Regions from separate parts of the Homo sapiens genome. Here region 2 is linked to region 1. Evidence: fine-mapped expression QTL. Tissue or cell type: esophagus muscle. Region 1 holds a variant in brackets; the other region holds the start of a gene. All regions are shown on one strand. Distances are between the middles of the regions.

The links. PIP is the estimated chance that this variant, and not a neighbour inherited with it, causes the effect.
Region 2: PNLDC1 starts here. The variant in region 1 is fine-mapped to the expression of PNLDC1 in esophagus muscle (GTEx, PIP 0.94). The same link has a PIP of 0.9 or more in sigmoid colon.

The regions. Positions count from the first base shown.
Region 1 is chr6:159,708,878-159,716,985 of GRCh38, forward strand. It overlaps a transcript of SOD2 not described here and the pseudogene HNRNPH1P1. Among named protein-coding and RNA genes, the nearest start is that of WTAP, 15 kb to the right of the region's middle. The variant A/G (reference allele first, on the strand shown) is at 4,169.
Region 2 is chr6:159,797,080-159,805,187 of GRCh38, forward strand. It overlaps PNLDC1 (PARN like ribonuclease domain containing exonuclease 1), which reads left to right and starts at 3,197. Exons shown (of 19, transcript NM_001271862.2): 1 at 3,197-3,304; 2 at 3,693-3,750; 3 at 4,034-4,107; 4 at 6,192-6,231; 5 at 6,886-7,009; 6 at 7,470-7,558. The coding sequence starts at 3,229. It overlaps MRPL18 (mitochondrial ribosomal protein L18), which reads left to right. Exons shown (of 4, transcript NM_014161.5): 3 at 208-439; 4 at 973-1,350. The coding sequence ends at 1,044.

The DNA.
Region 1 (8,108 bases):
ACAGTAACCAAAACAGCATAGTACTGGTACCAAAACAGAGATATAGACCAATGGAACAGAACAGAGCCCTCAGAAATAATACCACACATCTACAACTATCTGATCTTTGAGAAACCTGACAAAAACAAGCAATGGGGAAAGGATTCCCTATTTAATAAATGGTGCTGGGAAAACTGGCTAGCCATATGTAGAAAGCTGAAACTGGAACCCTTCCTTACACCTTATACAAAAATTAATTCAAGATGGATTAAAGACTTAAATGTTAGACCCAAAACCATAAAAACCCTAGAAGAAAACCTAAGCAATACCATTCAGGACATAGGCATGGGCAAGGACTTCATGACTAAAACACCAAAAGCAATGGCAACAAAAGCCAAAATTGACAGATGGGATCTAATTAACCTAAAGAGCTTCTGCACAGCAAAAAAAACTACCATTAGACTGAACAGGCAACCTACAAAATGGGAGAAAATTTTTGCAATCTACTCATCTGACAAAGGGCTAATATCCAGAATCTACAAAGAACTCAAACAAATTTACAAGAAAAAAACAAACAACCCCATCAAAAAGTGGGCAACGGATATGAACAGACACTCCCCAAAAGAAGACATTTATGCATCCAACAGACACATGAAAAAATGCTCACCATCACTGGCCATCAGAGAAATGCAAATCAAAAGCACAATGAGATATCATCTCACATCAGTAAGAATGGCAATCATTAAAAAGTCAGGAAACAACAGGTGCTGGAGAGGATGTGGAGAAATAGGAACACTTTTACACTGTTGGTGGGACTGTAAACTAGTTCAACCATTGTGGAAGACAGTGTGGCGATTCCTCAGGGATCTAGAACTAGAAATACCATTTGACCCAGCCATCCCATTACTAGGTATATACCCAAAGGAATATAAATCATGTTGCTATAAAGACACATTCACACGTATGTTTATTGCGGCACTACTCACAATAGCAAAGACCTGGAGCCAACCCAAATGTCCAACAATGATAGACTGGATTAAGAAAATGTGGCATATATACACCATGGAATACTATGCAGTCATAAAAAATGATGAGTTCATGTCCTTTGTAGGGACATGGATGACGCTGGAAACCATCATTCTCAGCAAACTATCGCAAGGACAAAAAACCAAACACCACATGTTCTCACTCATAGGTGGGAATTGAACAATTGAACTTGGACACAGGAAGAGGAACATCACACACTGGGGCCTGTTGTGGGGTGGGGGGAGGGGGGCGGGATAGCATTAGGAGATATACCTAATGTAAATGTCGAGTTAATGGGTGTAGTACACCAACATGGCACATGCATACATATGTAACAAACCTGCACGTTCGTTGTGCACATGTACCCTAGAACTTAAAGTATAAATACATATATATATATATATATAAAATACAAAAATTAGCTGGGCGTGGTGGCACGTGCCTATAGTCCCAGCTACTGGGAGGCTGAGGCAGGAGAAATCACTTGAACCTGGGAGGCAAAGTTGCAGTGAGCCAAGATCGTGCCACTGCACTCCAACCTGGCGACAGAGTTAGACTCTGTCTCAAAAAAAGAGGAAAAAGAAAGACGACAGAGAAGCTGACCAAGAGTGATCAGAATAAATTATATTTCTCATTTACCCATTATACGGGATATACTAGACATCCCTCCCATTCTATTCAACTCCCATAAGTGCACTGCTTTTATATCTGGAGTAGCTCTTTAGTGCTCCTTCTCTACCTAACCAAGCTTTGACTGACAGTCACTGGAGTTTTCCTCCAGAACGTGGTCATATCCCCTCATACTGCTCTGATCACCCTAACCACCTCCATAACCACCAGTCACACTGCTCTGACCACCATAACCACCACTCATACTGCTCTGACCTCCATAACCACCACTCAGCTGCTCTGACCTCCATAACCGCCTCCACAACCACCACTCACATTGCTCTGATCACCATAACCACCTCATAACCACCACTCAGCTGCTCTGACCTCCATAACCGCCTCGACAACCACCACTTACATTGCTCTGATCACCATAACCACCTCCATAACCACCACTCACACTGCTCTGACCTCCATAACCACCTCCATAACCACCACTCACACTGCTCTGACCTCCATAACCACCTCCATAACCACCACTCAACAGCTCTGATCACCATAACCGCCTCCACAACCACCACTCACATTGCTCTGATCACCATAACCACCTCCATAACCACCACTCACATTGCTCTGATCACCATAACCACCTCCATAACCACCACTCACATTGCTCTGATCACCATAACCACCTCCACAACCACCACTCACATTGCTCTGATCACCATAACCACCTCCACAACCACCACTCACATTGCTCTGATCACCATAACCACCTCCATAACCACCACTCACACTGCTCTGACCTCCATAACCACCTCCATAACCACCACTCACACTGCTCTGACCTCCATAACCACCTCCATAACCACCACTCAACAGCTCTGATCACCATAACCGCCTCCACAACCACCACTCACATTGCTCTGATCACCATAACCACCTCCATAACCACCACTCACATTGCTCTGATCACCATAACCACCTCCACAACCACCACTCACATTGCTCTGATCACCATAACCACCTCCATAACCACCACTCACATTGCTCTGATCACCATAACCACCTCCACAACCACCACTCACACTGCTCTGACCACCATAACCACCTCCATAACCACCACTCAGCTGCTCTGACCACCATAACCACCTCCAATACCACCACTCACATTGCTCTGATCACCATAACCACCTCCATAACCACCACTCACACTGCTCTGATCACCATAACCACCTCCACAACCACCACTCACATTGCTCTGATCACCATAACCACCTCCATAACCACCACTCACATTGCTCTGATCACCATAACCACCTCCATAACCACCACTCAGCTGCTCTGACCACCATAACCACCTCCATAACCACCAGTCACACTGCTCTGATCTCCATAACCACCACTCACATTGCTCTGATCACCATAACCACCTCCACAACCACCACTCACATTGCTCTGATCACCATAACCACCTCCATAACCACCACTCACACTGCTCAGACCTCCATAACCACCTCCATAACCACCACTCACACTGCTCAGACCTCCATAACCACCTCCATAACCACCACTCGGCTGCTCAGACCTCCATAACCACCTCCATAACCACCACTCAGCTGCTCAGACCTCCATAACCACCTCCATAACCACCACTCAGCTGCTCTGACCACCATAACCACCTCCACAACCACCACCCACATTGCTCTGATCACCATAACCACCTCCATAACCACCACTCACATTGCTCTGATCACCCTAACCACCTCCATAACCACCACTCACATTGCTCTGATCACCATAACCACCTCCATAACCACCACTCACACTGCTCTGATCACCCTAACCACCTCCATAACCACCACTCAGCTGCTCTGACCTCCATAACCACCTCCATAACCACCACTCACACTGCTCTGATCACCATAACCACCTCCATAACCACCACTCACACTGCTCAGACCTCCATAACCACCTCCATAACCACCACTCAGCTGCTCTGACCTCCATAACCACCTCCATAACCACCACTCACACTGCTCTGATCACCATAACCACCTCCATAACCACCACTCACACTACTCTGATCACCCTAACCGCCTCCACAACGACCACTCAGCTGCTCTGACCTCCATAACCACCTCCATAACCACCACTCACAATGCTCTGATCACCCTAACCACCTCCATAACCACGACTCAGCTGCTCTGACCTCCATAACCACCTCCATAACCACCACTCACACTACTCAGACCACCATAACCACCTCCACAACCACCACTCAGCTGCATAACTAGACTGGTTGGGTAAGCCCATCTCTCCCATCATTTGCCTACCATAAGCACCACCACTTGCCCCTGCTGTAGATTCAAGAAAAGTTCTACATAGGTGTGTTCATAAACCCCCCTACTTGTTCCTATAGCATTTAAAAAGGTCTCCCTGTACCTGTGCTGCATATTAGCTTTGTCTTTTGCCATAGCTGCCACTGCATCTTCGTGAGCAGCAAACTCAACATCTGCCCTACCAGTAAACTCTGTCATCGTGTCCAATTTCA[A/G]TATGTACTCTCATGAGGTTAAGAGGTGAATAGAAATTATAACATTCTTAGTGGCTCTGTAAGGTAAACCCCTCGTGTGTACACAGTGCCCTGTGGTGCTCTGGAAACTGGACCCACTATCTCCGTATCTATGATCAGACATTCCTGAAAAACAGTAATTGCGGTCTTTTCCAAATCTATCAGACCTAAAGCCATATCCATCATTACAGCCACGATAGTCATCATAGCCTCTATACCCTCCACCATAGGGACCCTGCCTCATCTTTTCAAACCCAGCTCCTCTGCCAATGCTATTACACCTCAGCCAGCCCCTGGCCTATCACTGGGACCTGGCCACTGCACAGCCATGAGCTTCTGAGAGGGATCATAGTAGGTATGAACTTCAGCTTGGCTATTCTAGAAGATTTCAATGTACCTGTGCCCTATTCTTTCCCTGTGTTTCTTCAATGCCGTCTCAGCTATCTCCTGCGAAGCCAACTGCACAAAGGCTTCCCCTGTGCTTCTGCCCTGAAAGTCCACTCACAGTGTTATCCCATTTGGCACAATTTCCAACCCTGAAAAGAAATGAACAATCTCTTCCTTGGACAGCCAAATGGAAGTCCTCTAAGCCAGACGAAGCCATCGTTGGCAGTATCAGGACTATTCAGACCTGTGTGCTTCGATACCCAATCCATTTCAACACTATTAGACTTGAATACTTCAACGTATCTGTGTCCCATGGTTTCTCTGTCTTTAAAGCCAATTTCGCTTCATCTGCAGATTCAAGTTCAACAAATGCTTCACCACTTGGTCTGCCTTCTCCGGTGTAGATGAAACAAATACCTGATGTGCCATTTTGTATTTTGCAATCAGAGAAGTGCATCACTTCATCAGCTGAGCAGGACCAGGATAGGCCCTGGACCTTCACCACGAACCCCTCCCTGCCTTCCGTGCTCAGCATCGTGGCGACTGTTGAGCTCTTGGTGGCAAGTTTGGCGGAATGCAATTTTGGTGTAGTGGGCAATTATCCTCCTTCTGCCTTCAAATGGGCTATAGCAAGATGACAAGCAGAACTACTTCTGCTCACATAAGCAAGTGATCACATGAGCACACCGGCTTTACCTCTAATCTCTGCTGCCATCTGACTTCTCTGTGCCTCTGCTGTCCCATCTGTCACATAAGACTAATACAGGCCCTCACCTCCCTAGACGTCGGGTTGTGAGGACCAAAGAAACATCATCTCTGCCTATACCTTTTCCTCTATTCTTTTTTCCCTCCAGAAACCCAATGACCTTGGACTTCCCTGAGTCCCACACTGGCTGACATATTACATACGGATTCTTCCCTCCAAGGGAAGATAAGCCTAGCTTCCATCGGGAACAGACCCGCACATTCCATCAGTCCCTTCTCCTGACTGTACACTCCCTACTTCACTCCCCAGGCAGGGCCTGGGTAGTGAACTTTTAAGAACCAACACTGATTTGACTTCCACCAGCAGGCTCAGCAGCACAGCCTCTAGATGTTTTGCTCGTTTCATCGCCAGGCGGTACTCTTTCCCACGGTACTATAAAGCAATTCCTGTTTTTCACTTTGTTGAAAAGGTGTGCCAAATGACTGCAATTCTGTGTGCCCAGATTATGATAAGCCTACCCTGGTGTCCTGCCTAACTAATCACATCACAGCCCACTGGCATTTTCATCAGAAGCCTTTGCTTGAGTGGATGGGGGTAGGCTGCAGATTCTTCTCTGTTGTCTGGCTGGAGTAGAGCAGTTACTGTCTAAAGGTTTTCTGTCTTGGTAGACTGCCTCCTTTCTTGGACCTTTAGTTATACATAAGAGGCTTTTGCTGGTGGCTGTTTTTGTCTGTGCTTGTTGATGTGTACAGATTGCTGGCTTCTGGGATATATGAGGCAAAAATGAAACACAGGGAGTCATTCCTGTGTCAGTCCTTGGGTCCTGAAGTCCATAGCCAGTTTGCCTTTCAGTCTTCTTCTGCTTGTTTTACATATAATATTCAGGATTTTTAGCCATACTTGGTGAGAGGAACATGGAAAAGTATGTCTAGTCCATTTTCCCAGGAGTGGAAATTTCCCAGACTTGTGTTTAGAAAGGGCTTGTTGTGTAGGAGAGAGTTTGGATGGGAAGCAAAGATGGGTGGCAGAGGACCAATTGGGGGGCCACTGTTAGTCGACAAGAAAAGCTGAAGACCTGGATTGGCCAGTGGCACTGGGACCCAAATGAGTGGGATAGAGAAAACTATTTACAGGTTAAGAAAAACAGGGAAGAGCAACAAAAACATGTCTAACAGGAAGTCAGTGTGGTCAACAGTAGAACCATTGCTTAAGGCCCAGTGCTCTCCTCTGGCAGAAGAATGGATTTACAGTTTGTCAACAGTCACATAGTTTTTGAATGGACTGTCTCCTGTCCTAGTGGGTCTTTAATTTGTGGGGAACAAAAAACCGTCCTTTTAAAAACTGAAGAGATTTGACTGAAGGTTTGACCAAACAGGATCTTACCGTTGCATCCATAAGGTTAAACACTATTAGCAAGCAACAGAGGCAAACAGAATAGTATTTTGAAAAGTTCTGAATATAGGCCAGGCATGGTGGCTCACGCCTGTAATCTTAACACTTTGGGAGGTCAAGGTGGGAGAATCACTTGAGCCCAGGAGTTTGAGACCAGCCTGGCCAACATGGTGAGACTCCGTCTCCATAAAAAATGCAAAAATTAGCTGGGTATGGTAGTTCACACCTGTAGTCCCAGCTACCTGGGGGGCTGAGGTGGGAGTATCGCTTGAGCCCAGGAGGTGCAGGCTGCAGTGAACTGAGATGACACCACTGGTCTCCAGCCTGGGCAACAGAGCTAGACCCTGTCTCAAGGAAAAAAAAAAAAAAAAAGTTCTGAAAATAAAATCCTTCAAGACCCTTATATTTTTATTGTAGTTAGCTTTTTGTCTTATAAAAGTTTGGTTTTCTGGAAATGAATAATGACTTTTAAATTTTTGCTTTATTGTGAAACAAGGGCTATGGACATCATAATGTAAAAACAACAACAATAAAGCAAAGTGTCACAGAAAAACCTAGTTTTGCTGGCACCTCTCCATTTTATTTCACTTGCTGATCATGTAAATGCCCTTCCTCTCTAAGTTAGAATGTGTTTGGCTATGGGTAACAGGAATCCTGATGAACAGTGGTTTTAAATATAAGGACATATCTGTTTTACCTAATAAAAAGTACAAGAACTGGCAGTCCCTTGGTGAGTCTGGAAGATTAACAAGGTCATCCCGGACCCAGGGACTTTCCATTCTTGACTCTGAATTCCCAGCAGCCTGCTTTCATTTTCCAACTTGTTGCCTCATCGTCACAAGATGTTTCCTATAGGTGCAAGCAGCACAGCCTCTCACAGCCTAGTAAGAGACAACAAGGAAGGGAGGGGGAAAACATTTCACCTCATGTGCCTCTCCCCGGAAGGAAAATTTTTCTCAGAAGCCCCGAGAGATTTCCTCTGATCCCAGCCAGAACTGCTCAACTGGCCAACTCTGCCTGCAAGAAGACTGAGCACCATCACTATGTGGTAAAGACCATGACAGCCATGCTTGCCTTAGACCAGCAGTTCTCATCAAGGGCATGACGGGAGGGGGCAGTATTGAAAATATAGAAAGGGACACTTTCAGCTGTCACATATACAGAGAGGTGCTATTGGCATCTAGTGGGTTGGTGTGGGGATGCTAAATGTCCTAAAATGCACAAGATACTTTTCACACACACACAAATTGTCTTGTCCAAAATTCCAGTAGCACACTTGTTGAGAAACACTGGCTTACACCAGCCATAATTCATCTCCTGGCCTGAAGATACTATGACTCAAACACAATTTAGAAGTTCCTAGATTGTGCAAGAGGAGGAACATGGCTCCCAGTAGTGTGTGCCACAATACCCCAGCAGATGTTGGAAGGAGTACAG
Region 2 (8,108 bases), 88 kb after region 1:
GAACTATTTAGTTTGTTATTATTGAGGATATTCTCATAAAGGCGGAGGAAAAATACTTTTCCCAAGCAAAATCCAAGTTAAATATGTTGAAGTAAATGAACCAAACACTGGATTGTTGAAAAATATTTAGTCATTTATTCACCTCAATTAATGTAACTTTAGGATACAGATTCTTCTGTGATTTTATTATCTTCTCACCCCATTTAGGTTGCGAGTTATAAGGACTCAGCATCATGTAGAAGCACTTGTGGAGCATCAGAATGGCAAGGTTGTGGTTTCGGCCTCCACTCGTGAGTGGGCTATTAAAAAGCACCTTTATAGTACCAGAAATGTGGTGGCTTGTGAGAGTATAGGACGAGTGCTGGCACAGAGATGCTTAGAGGCGGGAATCAACTTCATGGTCTACCAACCAACCCCGTGGGAGGCAGCCTCAGACTCGGTATTTTTGTTTTCATGTACTTATTGAAAAGGTATTGTGTTAATTCTTGGCATTAGATAACTTACATAATAATAACAGTTTTTACTTACCAAATACTTTCCATGTGTCAGACCCTTTGGTGAGTACTCAACAGTGTTACTTCATTTAATCCTCACATCAGTCCATAGGGTAGGGACTAGTACTCTCATTCTATACAGAAATAAACTGAGGCTTACTTGCCCAGAGTCAGTGTATGGTGGATTTCAAACCCAGGGTGACTGATTCTGTAGTCCATGATGTCAGCCACTGTATTTCCTGTTCATATATTGACATCTTGTCCATATAATATTTTGAAATGCTGCTGAACCTTGACATCTCTACATTTCCTTTTTACTTACATCATTATTAAGATCACTTTCTGAAAAACCGTTGTAGGCTGGGAAGTTAGCAAGAACAAATCAATTTATTTCTGTCTTTTGGAAGGTGAAAGTATTTTCAGCCTACTCGTGCTGCTGACTTAATCTTTTCCTTTTTTTTCTGATTTTCAAAACCAGATGAAACGACTACAAAGTGCCATGACAGAAGGTGGTGTGGTTCTACGGGAACCTCAGAGAATCTATGAATAAATGGAAGCATTAATTGTTTTGAACATGTAAATATAAATCTGTCAGCCACTACAGCCATCAAAAGAGAGCATCTGGAAGAACAGCCAGCTTGGAAGTTTTACAGCAATAATGTTGCAGTGGAATATTATTTGTAGTTAAGGTCATCCTCCTCCCCTTTCTGTTTTTTTAAATCAAGAACTACGTTCTGCCCCTCTCTTGGGCTTCAGAAGCATCTAAGAAAAGCAGTCATCAATTATAATTAACTTTCAAAGGGCAAGTCAGAAGTTGTTTATAAATTACAAAATAAAGGCATATTATGAACTCTTATTTTCTGGTTATATGACATTGTCTGAGCTCACTGTGGCAGTGGAGCACATATGAGGTTGATGTAAAGCACTTATTACTGTGTCTAGTTCATGGCGAGTGATCTCAGTGAATGACAGTTGTTTGCTGCTCGGAGTGTGGGTTGTTTTTTAAAATAGGAAATGTCAGTATCAATCTAATACTATAGAACAGTCAGTATGTGAAAATGAAAGGACCAAATGCCAACCTCACTTGGACTCTTGGTTCCCAACAGTAAGAGAAACAAATTTGAAAGAGGAAGGAGGTGGCATCAGGAGCTGAAAGCAGAGGTGGAAATGGTTGGGGTTAGTGGGCGCTCAATTTGCCATGAAGTGAACATTTTATTAGATAGGAGATGAAACTTGAAATGCATGCAAGTTAATCTAAAATTTGAGCTTGGGTAGATGGGAATCATGGCAGTTCTCTGAAAGGAGCTGATTAAGGTGTTAATTTTTGGCTATTTGATAAATGTGAGAAAAAACCTGTAGGCAGTTAAGGTGGCTTCTAGAGCATTGTTTTCCAGTTTTTTTAATGTATACCCCAATTAAATGTTTGTTTAGAAGTGAAATATGTTACTTCTGCCAATTTGAGTATTCAATGTGTTATTTTAAATGGAACACATCTGTATGAAGTATGATTTGTTCTGAGAGGTCTTCAGAATCAAATGGCTTAATAGTCCCCTTTTGCTTAATTAATGTCCCGGAGAGGCATTTAAAAGTATAATTGAAGATCGGATGCAGTGCCTCACACCTCTAATCCCACCACTTTAGGAGGCTGAAGCAGGTGGATCACTTGAGGCCAGGAATTCGAGACCAGCCTGGCCAATACGGTTTAACCCTATCTCTACTAAAAACAAAAATGAGTTGGGCGTGGTGGTGCATGCCTGTAATCCCAGCTGTTCAGAGGCTGAGGCGGGAGAATCGCTTGAACTCAGGAGGTGGAGATTGCAGAGAGCCGAGATGGCACCACTGCACTCCAGCCTGGGTGACAGAGTGAGACTGTCTCAAAAGGAAAAAATAAAGTATAACGGTAATGTTTTCTCCGCTAACCTTAAAGATTGATTTGAGCACCTCACTTTGAGGACCATAGTTCCAAAACGCTGTTCAAGTAGAAGCCTAGAATTCAAGGGAGGACACTGTAAGGAAGACCATGGACTAGTTGCACTGGAAACAGTAACAAAAGTAAAAATTAAGCTCACATGTATGTGATGATGTAGGTAGGGATTTCCGCAAGGAGTGAGTGCACGAGATAATCCCTGGGGACCAAGGATTCCTTCAATTTAATGGGCAGTTCTTGAGGCTTTGCAAAGTTTGATTGCAGGTGTGAAGACAGTGGTAAGGTGGACAGCAGAATGAGGAAAAAGATGTCCAGGGGCGTGGGAGAGGGAATGGGGACAGACATACTGGCAGTGATGGAGAAGTTGGGAAGAGGTGATTTAGAAGACCGTGAGCCGCAGCAAAGGATCTGCTTATTGCAGTTGCGTCCGGTGTTGTTCCTGCTCCGCTTTTCTGATTTCACCCTTTCTGGACTCTGTCTTCGTCTCCTGCCACGCCTCTTAACATTCTAAGTCCATGTAAATGACATTCTCACGTTAAGGGCTGCAAAGAAATTGCTGAGGAGCCAGGTAAACAGGCTTTGATTGCAATTGCAATCAAACCTCTGTAGCAAATCGTACAATTAAAACACCCGCAGGCAGGTGTGGGCGACGCCAGCAGCACACGGGGAAGCTGGGCACGTGGGGCGGAGGCAGCTGCCTGGTTTCCATGTGTGCGCCCTTTAAGACCCGGCGGCGCGACGGAAGCGCGTGGGCAGCACGTGGGCAGCACGTGATAGCGCTGGGCGACTCCGCGGAGCTGCACGGCCATGGACGTGGGCGCCGACGAGTTCGAGGAGAGCCTCCCTCTGCTGCAGGAGCTCGTCCAGGAGGCCGACTTCGTGGGTGAAGAGCCTGGGATTCGCGGCTGTGCCGGACAGAGCCCCTTGCCCCGGGCGAGCTTGAGGAGGGGGTGGCGGGACGGTTGCCAGGCCACAGGGCCTCAGAGAGGGCCTCGGGAAGGACAGGGGGGCTTCCTTCTCCAGCCCCGGGGCGGTGGGACTTTGAGCAGCAAGTACACTCCGAGCCCCACGTCCCTTGTTGGCCAGAGCCCCGTGCGCCCAGGTGCCTGGCTGCTCCTTGCCTTGGTTCCTCCATTTTCCCTTCCTGACCTCACTTGGCTTCTTGAGCGCAGAGGTGAGCGCGGGTGCCTTGGCCGCCTGCAGATCTACAGTGTGAGGAGTGCTGGCGATGTTCTGCACCCGAGGACTGCTATTTTTTGCCTTCCTGGCAGGTCTGGACATAGAGTTCACGGGCCTTCGTTCTAACCTGTCTGGGCCCCAGCAGATCAGGTAAAACTAAAGCTGTGTCCCCTCTGTATAAGAGCCTGGCCAGACCAGCACTGTTTCTGGCCAGCAGCCTGTTGGCATTTGGGGGGCAGGACGTTTTGTGTGGCTTGCTCCTACGTGTTGGAGGACCTTGCTTTTTTCTGTCCACTAAATGATGGTAGTGCTCCCTAGTTGTTGTAACAAGGAAAAAATCCTCCCCGGTTGCGAGTGGTGGTCCTGCCGCGGAGGCCATAGTGCCGGGATGGGATGTCATTGCTCGTGGAATGAGATGCCTGTTTGTTCACAGTCTTTTTGATTTGCCATCGGAGTGGTATCTAAAGACCCGTCAGAGTGTTCAGCAATTTACAGTCTGTCAGATTGGTGAGTTTAATATCAGCTGTTAGAGTTTTTCAAGAAGGTATTTTTATTGTCCTTGGATTTCCTACTGTAAAAACAGCTCTGAGATTTTTCAAGGATATTGAGTATCGTTTTGTATGCTTGTTTTGTGTTGGGCCATTGTATACATATGGAAATCAACACTTCGGAGCAAACCAAATTTAGCAGCATTGTTTCCGTGCTTAAATAAGTCAGTATTAAGGAACACTCACTGTTACTCTTTCAAGTAAAACTGTGTGTGTGCGATTTTTATTTTATTTTTTGAGACAGGGTCTTGCTCTGTCACCAAGACTGGAGTGCAGTAGCATAGTCTTAGCTCACTGCAGCCTAGACTTCCTGGGCTCAAGTGATACTAGCACGTCAGCCTCCTGAGTAAACTGGGACTACAGGCTCACCACCACACCTAGCTAATTTTTAAATTTTTTGTTCAGATGGGTTTTCGTCATGTTGGCCAGGCTGTTCTTGACTTCCTGGGCTCGAGCAATCTTTCTGCCTCTGCCTCTCAAAGTGATGGAATTATAAGCGTGAGCAACCACACCTGGCCTGTGATTTTTTTTTCTTAAGAAAATTTACACACAAAAATAATTTTTTTTAAGGTCATCTCAGTTTCAGAAACTTTTTTTTTTTCCTTGATGGGATTTGGAGATCTTTCTGTATCGGTTCATACAGATCTATTTGTTGATTTAGTTATTAGTTTATTTTCTGAGATGGAGTCTCGCTCTGTTGCCCAGGCTGGAGTGCAGTAGCGCGATGTGGGCTCACCGCAACCTCCACCACCCAGGTTCGGGTGATTCTCCTGCCTCAGCCTCCAGAGCAGCTGGGATTACAGGCAATTGCCACCAGGCCTGGCTAATTTTTGTATTTTTAGTAGCGATGGGGTTTCACCATGTTGGCCAGGCTGGTCAAGACAGAGCTGTTAACGGTTGCGTAATGCTGTTTCTTTTACAGCTACTCAATCCTGCTTTTGTAATGTGAAATTAGCTGTAGAGAATACATGAACAAATGAGCATGGCTCCATTCCAGTAAAATGTTATTGTATTTACAGAAACAGACCCTGGGCCAGATTTTACTTTTCTGGGTTTGTCTGTGCCCTCTCCCGCACCATTGGGTTTTTGCTGTGTTGCCCAGGCTGGGCTCAAACTTTTGGGCTCTGGAGATCCTCCAGTCTCAGCTTCTGAAGTAGCTGGGAGTGCTGCCACGCCCAGCCCCTGCTTTTACTATGAATGATGCTGAACGTGTGTGTGTTTTCCTCTCTATCCTGATCCTTTGCTACTTTTCTGTTATGGTTTTTTTTTTGTTCGTTTGTTTGTTTTTAATTATAAGACCTCTTTGAGAAGTATAGGAAACAGTTGTAGTTATGTTTCCATTGTTGTACCCAAATTTGTTTGGGGGGAAGGGGGACAGAGTCTTGCTCTGTTGCCCAGGCTGGAGTGCAGGGGCACGATCTTGGCTCCCTGCAACACCCTTGCCTCCCAGGCCCAAGCAATTCTCCTGCCTCAGCCTCCTGAGTAGCTGGGATTACAGGTGCGCGCCACCACACCTAGCTAATTTTTGTATTTTTAGTAGAGACAGGGTTTCACCATGTTGGTCAGGCTGGTCTCGAATTCCTGACCTCAAGTGATCCACCTGCCTAGGTCTCCCAAAGTGTTGGGATTACAGGCATAAGCCACCGCACCTGGCCTGAAGTCTTTTTTTTTTTTAACTTTGCATATGGTTTTCTTTGAGGGGGGAGGAATAGACATTTTAAATGAGTTAAATATATAAATCTTAATGGTTTTTGGTATTTTCTGTGGATAGTTTTAAAACTATGAGAATGTCATTTTAATATTTACTTCTGTATTTGAAGAACAGGCCACAATTAGATTTTAGCAAATTCAGTGTGAATTACAATTTGACATTTCTCATGCTTCCAGTCTGTCTTTTCTTTTTTGTCATTAAAGATGTTATCCTGTTGTACAGCCCACATAGTATCTGTGGGCGCAAAGTACTGTTTGAGTTGTTTTTGTCTTTGTAGTGAAATTCAGGTTGCTTTTCCTTGGCATTCATTCCCTCTACGGTCATTCTTCCAGGATTGTCTGTGTTTTCCGCTATTGAAGGAGAGGCAAACAAGTATGTATCAAGAGCTTCTGCAAACATAGGTGCTTCCCACCTATGTTCCACAGCTGCCACCTTCAAATTCTGCCTCAGGTGCCCCGATCACTTTTGCCCTGGATCTTCCGTATTCTCTCCTGTGTCTGTTCCTCCACTCACTCTGCCCTCTGCGGATTCCAGCTTGTCTTTGATGTCTCTCTGGAAGCAGTACCTTTCCCGCCAGCCTTGCTCTGTACCTTAAGTGCTCCTTTCCCCATTTCCATTGTCTCCAGTGTGCACCTATATTAATAAAAGCGCCTGACACAGTGTGGTGTAATGAAAGTGATGTTTAAACTACCTGACACAGTAGGCAGAAAGGATGCCCCAACTATCAGGATGCCTCCCCACCCCCCATGAGCAGTTGAGGGTGCCAGCCTGCACGCCCTAACCTGGCATCCCTGGGCAGCTTGTGGAGGGGCTGTCTCTGTGGTATACGCTGGCCCTGAAGGCAGGCTCTCTGCCTTTTTCATTTAGCACCCCCAGTGCCAATCATAGCTCCTGAAACACAGCAGACACTCGGGCACACTCAGATTCTTCTTGCCTAAAAGAAAGAGCCCACCCTGAAGCCAGCCCTGGGAGCCAGAGTTTTTTAAATGGTTGTGGCTTTTTCTCTGTATGTTTGTTTTATTATAGGTATATAGCCCATTCTTGTAACTTCTATCTCTTCCCTACAACGTTTGGGATTTTGGACTCAGAATTCTCCTTCCAGGCTTCCAGTGTTCAGTTTTTGAATCAGTATGGCTTCAACTATAACAAGGTATGGCATTGGAGGAGGGGAACGGGAATGTCTTTTGTTTGTTTCTGAGATGGAGTCTCGCTCTGTTGCCCAGGCTGGAGTGCAGTGGTGCAATCTTCGCCTCCCGGGTTCAAGTGATTTTCCTGCTTCAGCCTCCCAAGTAGCTGGGATTACAGGCACCCGCCACCATGCCCAGCTAATTCTTTTTGTATTTTTAGTAGAGACGGGGTTTCACCATGTTGGTCAGGCTGGTCTTGAACTCCTAGCCTCAGGCAATCCACCTGCCTCGGCCTCCCAAAGTGCTGGGGTTATAGGCATGAGCCACCGCACCCGGCCTGGGAATGTCTTACAAGTGATCTAGACGAACTGGCTTATACAGCCCGTCTCCTTTCCCCTTTCTACCTGTCCTCGTGAAATCAGGCACAGAGGATCCCTCTGACTTGTCTCCTTGTTCTGTTTGTTGTTCTGTTTCTGTCTTAAGTTTCTCAAAAACGGAATCCCATATATGAATGAAGAACAGGAGAAGAAAATTAGACACGATATCCTGACTGGGAACTGGAGAGTTCGCAGGTATGGCCTGTTTCTCCAGGTGCCTTTTTGTTTCCTTGTTGCTGTTGTCTGCATTTCCCGTGGGCGGGCGTGCCGTTTCCAGGAGTGTGGTGACCTCCATCCATGCTTGGCGGGGATGGCTTCAGCTGCCTGTGCAGCTGGCGCTGCTCTCCCTGTGCCCCAACTGAGAATGGCTTTCACCTGTCTCCATCATGTTCCACTCCCTAATGAACCTCTCACTGCGTTGAGTGTGAGTTTCAGTGTTTAAAAAGAAAAAGAAACTGACTCCTAATTTGGAACTCAAAGAAACAAGAATTCCATTCCAGTGCTAGAGGGGAAGAAATCGTTCTGTTGGACTTGCTGTGAGATGTTATGTTGATCCCCCATGTGATCTTCTGAGGGATTTTTCAAGGATATCTCTCGGGCAACCTTGACTGTGCCAATCATACTGGGCACTGACTTCAGATGTGTGCCTTGGTTAGGCTGTGTCTGCCCTGCTGTGCCTGACCCTGCTCCCCTAGGCCGGGACCTCTGCCTTTTTACTTTGGCTGTCTGTGCCAGCCCCAGTCTC